2 linked regions of the Homo sapiens genome follow. The protein of the gene in region 1 interacts with the protein of each later gene in a pairwise test. Each region holds a gene or a part of one and is shown in the gene's direction. Other genes may lie near its edges.

The links. The genes of interacting proteins can lie anywhere in the genome.
Region 2: the proteins of LCE1C (region 1) and MACO1 interact in binary tests that used the Homo sapiens proteins (3 or more experiments, as listed by UniProt).

Annotation. Positions count from the first base shown.
Region 1 is NC_000001.11:152,804,460-152,808,215, reverse strand, and holds LCE1C (late cornified envelope protein 1C), read left to right. Parts: upstream 1-1,564; 5' UTR 1,565-1,615; intron 1,616-2,717; 5' UTR 2,718-2,737; coding exon 2,738-3,094; 3' UTR 3,095-3,384; downstream 3,385-3,756. UniProt on the Homo sapiens protein: Precursors of the cornified envelope of the stratum corneum.
Region 2 is NC_000001.11:25,433,794-25,437,449, forward strand, and holds part of MACO1 (macoilin), read left to right. Parts: intron 1-3,656. UniProt on the Homo sapiens protein: Plays a role in the regulation of neuronal activity.

The DNA of each region.
Region 1 (3,756 bases):
ACAATCCTCATGATGTTACATCATATTGCTACCTTATTAACCCAATCCATGTCAGATTAATTGACAGTTTGGGTGCTACCCTTTGTGGTATCAGAGTCATGGACAGAATAGCTTCTAATCCTCATCATCCTTGGAATGAATGGGCTGGGCTTCTGGATCAGAACTGCCAATGTAAGCTGAGTAATCAATATCTTGACTACTCTATTATTAAATACATTCTTTGGAACAACATGAGCCATAGCCAGGTAATTCAGTGGCAGACTTCTGCAGGGTGATAAGGCTAGTATACTGTAATGTAAATGTCTCAGAGTGAGAATTCCAATGATGATGGCTTAAGTCATACACAAAGTAAAGATGATGCTAATAGTAATCAATTCATTTTTAAATTGCTTACCTATGGAGTCCACCTCTGTTGTAGAAACTGTTGAGGGGTACATAAATATAAGAACAAAGCTGCAGAATCAAGGATAGTTTACTGTAGTCATATTTGAAAATTAAGACTCATAAAGAAGTTACAGTTGAATGGCACTGTTTTAGAAATGCATAGGTCACGGAATAAAGCCTGGATGTTGAAGAAGGAGCGTTATCCAAATGAATATAAATTGTTCTATCATAATGACATATGAATGTGTATGTTCACTCCAGCACTATTCACAATAGCAAAGACATGGAATCAACCCAAATACCCATCAATGGTAGACTAGATAAAGAAAATGTGGTACACATATACCATGGAATAGTATGCAGCCATAAAAAAGAATAAGATCATGTCCTTTGAAGAAACATGGATGGAGCTGGAGGCTATTATCTCTCCTTAGAAAGCAGCTATAATTTAAAAATATTAATGCATTGGCATTTGTTTAGAGAAAATGACATGTTATAAGCTCTCCACCAGAAACTTCCTTTGCATTATTTCATTGACTCTCAGCCATCCCTGGACAATTGTTTTTATATTATCTCTATTACAGAGTTGACAAACTGAGAACAAGAACGATGAGGTATTAATGCTTTTCATAAGGTCATGCAGGTAATAAGTGGCAGAATCAGGTTTCTCTCTATGTCTGACTCTTTAACCAGTTACCTAATGGCTTTAATACAGAAGCACACGCACACACACACACACACACACACACACACTCTCTCTCTCTCTCTCACACTCACACACACACACACACACAACTATAAGATAGTTGAGGGTTGGAGGATTCTATGAAACTTGAGTTAAGCCAGGTTGCCCAGAGCCACAGAGGTAAGATTTGGGAGTTAACAAAACAGAGAACTCAAGCTCCAAGACTAAACAGATTAGGTATTCTCCACGGAGAACAACACAGGAAATGATGGTAGGGATTTTCCCACTCCATTTCTATTTCTAAGTGGCCATAGTCCAAGCTGGGAGCAGCTTTTCTGAGCCCCATGGAGGAAGGCAAGTGAGGAGCTGCCAGTCACCACCCACCTCAGAACCCATGTGGGTGTCAGAAGGCAGGTCCTCTCATGCCCAGGCCCTGTCTCACAGCTGGAGGCAGAGCCCAGGCCAGGATAAAAGGGCTCTGGGCCTGAGCACTCCATCCACTCACCTCCCGAGGTGCTGAAGGACCCTGTGCTGCCTGTGACCCCGGTAAGTGTTCTTTGAGAATAGTTGCTGGGGCTTCCACAGAGTGTTGCTCAGCCCTAGGCAGGAGGGGAGGCTGGGCAGGACCTTGAGGGCTGAGATCCATCTGGATAGAAGTCAAGACCTCAGAAAGATTGAAGGAGGATGTGCTCAGGAGGCAGGGAGAGGGCCAACTGGTAACACAAATAAGAATTAGATGTCTCTGTCTTTGTGCTTCAGCTAGTTGAGTTTTAAGGACAGAGGGAGTTGAAGCCCAGGCAAATAGACTCTGCTAGAACAACTTCAAATAGGACACTTACTTTTCAGAGCAAAACTGTGACACTCCTTGCAAATTTGAGCTGGAGATAGTAGTTCTCAATCAGTGGAGTAGAGATAATTAATGGATCTTTTAGGGCTTTTTGAAACTCACTTATCTCTAGATTCAAATTGGAATTGAGAATCTCTTAAAGTAGTTAGACATAGCAAGCTGAGGATCACTGTGCCAACATGTTACTGTGAGGCCGTTGCGTGATGAATATGGCAGTGCACCAGCCTAGAGCCAGGGCACCTGAGTTCAGATCCCCTCTATGCACCAAAAATACTGTTCTCCAGCATCTTCCTTAACAAAGGGAGCCTGTGAGACCAGCCTGTCTCCAAAACCATTTACAATTGTACATGCGCAGGTTTTTACAAGACAAAGTCTCCTAGGAAGTTACTCCAAGAGATAATCCTTCATTATCTTTTTCCAAGAAAATGTTTATATCCCCAGGTTTCCACACTGGACAGTTTCAGGGTTTTATTTGACACAATGAGAAAAACTGCTTCCTTTAATTTACTAAATGTTTAATCTTGACAGATATTTTTTCATATGGCTTACTGCCTCAGTTTCCTTCTTTGTAAAAGATATAGTAATTCTTGACTGTCTTAAGATGAAATTGTGAACTCAAAAGATACAGTGTGAGAGCATTTGCCAAACTACAAGAAACAACAAAATTTTCAGTGATTAATGATTTACCATGACATTTGAACAGTTCATCAAAATAAAGGAAATAGAAACAATGTGGAAAGGACAAGAATAGGCAGGGGTGGCCTCTGCCTAGGTCTGACTTGCTGTTTGACTCTCTTTCAGCTCCTGAATCCGCCACCAAGATGTCCTGCCAGCAGAGCCAGCAGCAGTGCCAGCCCCCTCCCAAGTGCACCCCCAAGTGCCCTCCCAAGTGCCCCACCCCAAAGTGTCCCCCAAAGTGTCCCCCTAAGTGCCCTCCTGTCTCTTCCTGCTGCAGTGTCAGCTCCGGAGGCTGCTGTGGCTCCAGCTCTGGGGGCAGCTGTGGCTCCAGCTCTGGGGGATGCTGCAGTTCTGGGGGAGGTGGCTGCTGCCTGAGCCACCACAGGCGCCGTAGGTCCCACTGCCACAGACCCCAGAGCTCTGGCTGCTGCAGCCAGCCCTCGGGGGGCTCCAGCTGCTGTGGCGGGGGGAGTGGCCAGCACTCTGGAGGCTGCTGCTGAAGTGGACCCTGAGCCTAGAAGAGCAGAATCCAGGACCGCAAACTGCCAAGGACATCCCCCTTCTCCTACTAGGCCTGCCTGAGAGGCTCACAGGTCCAAGGGAAAGCTCTGAACTTGCCAAGAGCATATCTTTTCCCTGGAGTCCAGAAACTCAGATCCTCTCCTGGATCTCCATTCACTGGCCTTGGACCTCACCTTTGTGGCTACCCTCCCACGCTCTGTCTAAGCCCCTAGCTTACTCAATGTCATTTGCAGCGTGCATCTGCTGATTAAAGGACTAAAACAAGGAATCTGCTCAGTGTCTTGTTCTATGAGGACCCTATTCTCCTTGAGTGGCTCTTGTTCTCTTCACCTTGTCCTCTGCAGTTGGTGGCCTTGGAACCTCAGGGGACAGTGGGGCACTCTGGAGTGAATTGGGGTTAATGGGGGCAGGAGTGGGAAGGGACCATTGCTCCCAACTCTGTCTGTCCTATGTCAACTGGCCTGAAGCAGCATTGCTTCTGACCAAGTCTGAACTGTCTCTTATAAACATAGCTTCTTTGTTTCTGGTCCCTTTCAAGGGCTTGACCAGTCTCTCCAAGCTTCTCTTTCTCTGTGAGTGCAGTCTGCTCCTCCTGACCTAGCCCCACCAATATCCTTCCTCCCTCACACACATCACATGC
Region 2 (3,656 bases), about 130 Mb from region 1:
TACAGTTTGTGAAATGCTTTATAAATCCTAGTGTAGTTTACAGATACTATTTACCATGTTGTTGCTATCACAGTTTAACGTGTGGTTAATTTTTTAAGGAGGCAGGAAATACTGTAAGATTTGGTGCAACTGTAAACAAAAGTTGAGTAGCCAAAACAAAGGGTCAGTTGCTGTTTGGTCTTGCTTTAAAAAATCCTGTTGTGGACTCACTTTTAAATCATGGGCTGCAGTCCAACAACTGTTACTGAGGTGACTGTCAAATGATATCATTTATTGTGAGTATCATGGCTGTCTTGGAATTCTGTTTCGGGGTGAGATGCAAGGAAAATTAATTTTAGACATTATGTTAATGTAATCTGCATTTATACATATAAAACATCATTTGAAAAGTGAAACATGCTATAGAAATATTTTAGTCCAGTTAATAATTAAAAATAGGAGAAAGGAAATAGGAATAGTGATCTTTTCATCTTACTAGGGGCTAAAGTTCGATGTAGTTTTAAAAAAATCTGACCCAGCCCAGAGCCTGACAGAGTCGACATTCAGTGTTCAATAAATGTTGAGTGAGTAAATTAATAAATGAATATAAGCTAGTCCATTTCATTCATGAAGTGCCTACGTTGTTCAGGGAATTGCGGAGGATACAGGATAACACATGGCTCATTGTCTTCAAGGAGTTTACAGTCTAGTAGGCCGTAGTAATACCATCTTAAATTTGTACAGTGGTTTAGAGTTTCCAAAGAACTTTAAGTTCTGTTCAAGTAAAAATATTTCTGTTGTGCTAAATTTTAGCTTACTGTTTTAGTGGTTCATCTGACACATTAACAGCTGTATTTTGCTCTGTGCTATTTTATGATAAAGTAGACAGTTGCCACTATATGAGGGAGTCTTTTCTATCTCAAATGAGATAGATATGAAAGTACTTTAAAAATTATGAACATAAGTTATTAAGTACCTAACTCTTATATTTCTAAGGTCCTTTGGTTTTCTGGGCTGGGTTCTCTCCTTGTGTCTGCCTAGACACATGTGCACCAGACACTCCCGATAGTAATATCTCATTGCAGGCAGTGATTTTCCAGGTGAGGTGAGGTTAGGGTACTATGTAGTTTTTAAAAGCCTTAAGGGGATTCTGTATGGTTTACCCCTACCTCTCACCCTGCCATACTTTCCACTCCCTTCCCTCAGAGAATTACTGACTTTATAATATAAAAATGAGGAGATAAGATGTGGTAAGTAGAAGAAGGAGGCAGAAACATTTATGTTTAAAGTATACATATATTCCAAATCGCTACAGTTAAATGGTTATTTATGCAAGTAAATATAATACGAATTTTAAGTAAGGTATATGTTTTAAGCTTCTGGGAATGATTTTATATCTGTGTTACTGGTGGCTGAAGGAAGTACCCTTTCACTGTGTATTTAAGACTGCTTCCTGTCTTCATGTACTGGATTCTGCTTGTAGTGCTGTGTGAAGCTTAGGCAGTGCAGTATTGTACCTGACTGTCATATTTTTGCAGCTTAATGCCTTAAAACTAGGACTAAGAACTCAGCACTGGTGTATATGTTATTATTTCCCATTTTTATTTCAGAGAAAAATTCTCTGGTCCTTGGGGCTCCTCAAAAGTGACTTTTTAAAGTGATTAAATTTTGCATTCTTCTCAACTTCCCAATTTCCTTTTTCAGACCCTTGTCTACATCTGATCTCCAGAGGTTTCATTTGACTGCTTTTTCTGCCTCCTTAATGATGTTTTCTAAGCCTAGTTTTAGACTCCTTTGGGCTATGCTTATTAAAGTCACTGCAGGCTGTCATGACCCTTGGCTGCCTTGATTGTACATGTGTTCTGCAACTGAAACCCCAGATACCTGTGTTGCAATCTCATAGCCTAAAAGCATTTTGGTAATCTTGGTAGGCTTTAACTTTAACAATCCTGGACCTGGCACGAAAGTGATAGATTCTGTATTGTTTTAGAGGAGTGTTGGGGAAGGAGAAATTGAAATGTTTTCACTAACCTGTGCAGTGAAGTGTTTATTAGCTAAACTCTTCTATTTGTGGTTTTCACAAAATACACTTTAAAAATCGGCCACACTGGGATGAAAAAGCACTTTCCTCCAACTTTCATTATGATTCTTCCTGTCTGAGCAGTCTTGGCAGTTTAGTTTCATTAGGTGTTTTGAAAATCCCTTTAAATTGCTGCTGGGTTGAGGAGGGGAACAGGAGAGAACGTGATTCACTTCACATTATTTGCTTAAAAGCTTCCTGTTTTATCATTGATAGTCTCCTTTTTCTTCACATCGATTCCTCATGGCCTCTCTTGAACCTCACTAGATTTAGAGATTGATCTTAATGGTAGGTTTAACAAATAATTATTTACATTTTCTTACTAGTTATATGCTTGTATATATCTCATGGACCCAGTCCATGTTCTGTAAGCATTTATGTTCCTAGAATCTTTTTCTTTGGCCATTTCTCCCAGATCTCCCCACTGATACTGTTAACCCTTTGGGGTTTTATGTATATAAAGTGCACTTTGTTTTATCTGTTTCTAGGCTACCATCTTGTGGAGTTTGGAGGGCAAGTAGAAATTTCACAAACATAGTTAAGTGAAATACTGTAATTAGGTTACTTTTCTTCATAAAATTTAGTGTGCTCTTCAGATATACTGATTAGTTTATCCCCAGGCTTACTAGATTTGGGCATAATTATTTTACTTGGCTCTTGCTCAAGAATTAAGTCCAGAAGAAAAAGAAGTTGGCTGTCCAGCAAGCTGCATAAGTAGGATGGTACATACAACAGTAGATACACATATCCTTGTTAGACTTTTTCCACTGTGGATTTCTTCAGATGCTTAAGTAGTGACTTTTCAAAGCCTCTCACCTTGCATCCTGGCAATGGAAGCTTGAAAAAAGTTAATCAACTTTTAGAGAATATTGAGGCTCTGTATCTTTAATTTGACATTTAACCGACATCAAATTGTCTCAGCTGATGAGCCTTCCAAGGCACTTGTCTTCCCTGGCCTTTGAAGACAGTCATAGTACTGACCTTGATTGCTTTATATTTTTTTCTCTGCTGCCTTTAAGGATGATATGCCCACTTTGAGTCATGGGATTGTGGCACCAAAAATAATGTATCCCTCACCCCATCTCCTCTGTTGCCTTCTCTTTTTCAGAGCTTTTGCATTTAGTGATTAAAATGGTGTGACTACTCCACTTTCATATATCTGTTCATATCACTGATGAGTTTGAGCTGTTTAGGACCGATCTCCCACTCAGCACAGAGGAGTGGCTAGAAATAATCTCATTCTGTTTTTGAATCATATTGTTACGTTGTTCATCTTCAAAACACTTTTTTTTTTTTTTTTGAGACAGGGTCTCATTCTGTCGCCCAGGCTGGAGTCCAGCAGCGAGATCACAGCTCACTGTATCCTTCATCTCCTGGGTTCAAGAGATCCTTACACTTCAGCTGACCGAGTAGCTGGGACCAAAGGCATATACTACCATGCCTGGCTTTTTTTTTTTTTTTTTTTTTTTGCGTTTTTGCGTTTTTATAAAGATGGAGTCTCGCCGTGTTGTATAGGCTGGTCTTGAACTCCTGGGCTCAAGTGAGCCACTCACCTTGACCTCTCAAAGTACTGGGATTATAGGCATGAGCCACCGCA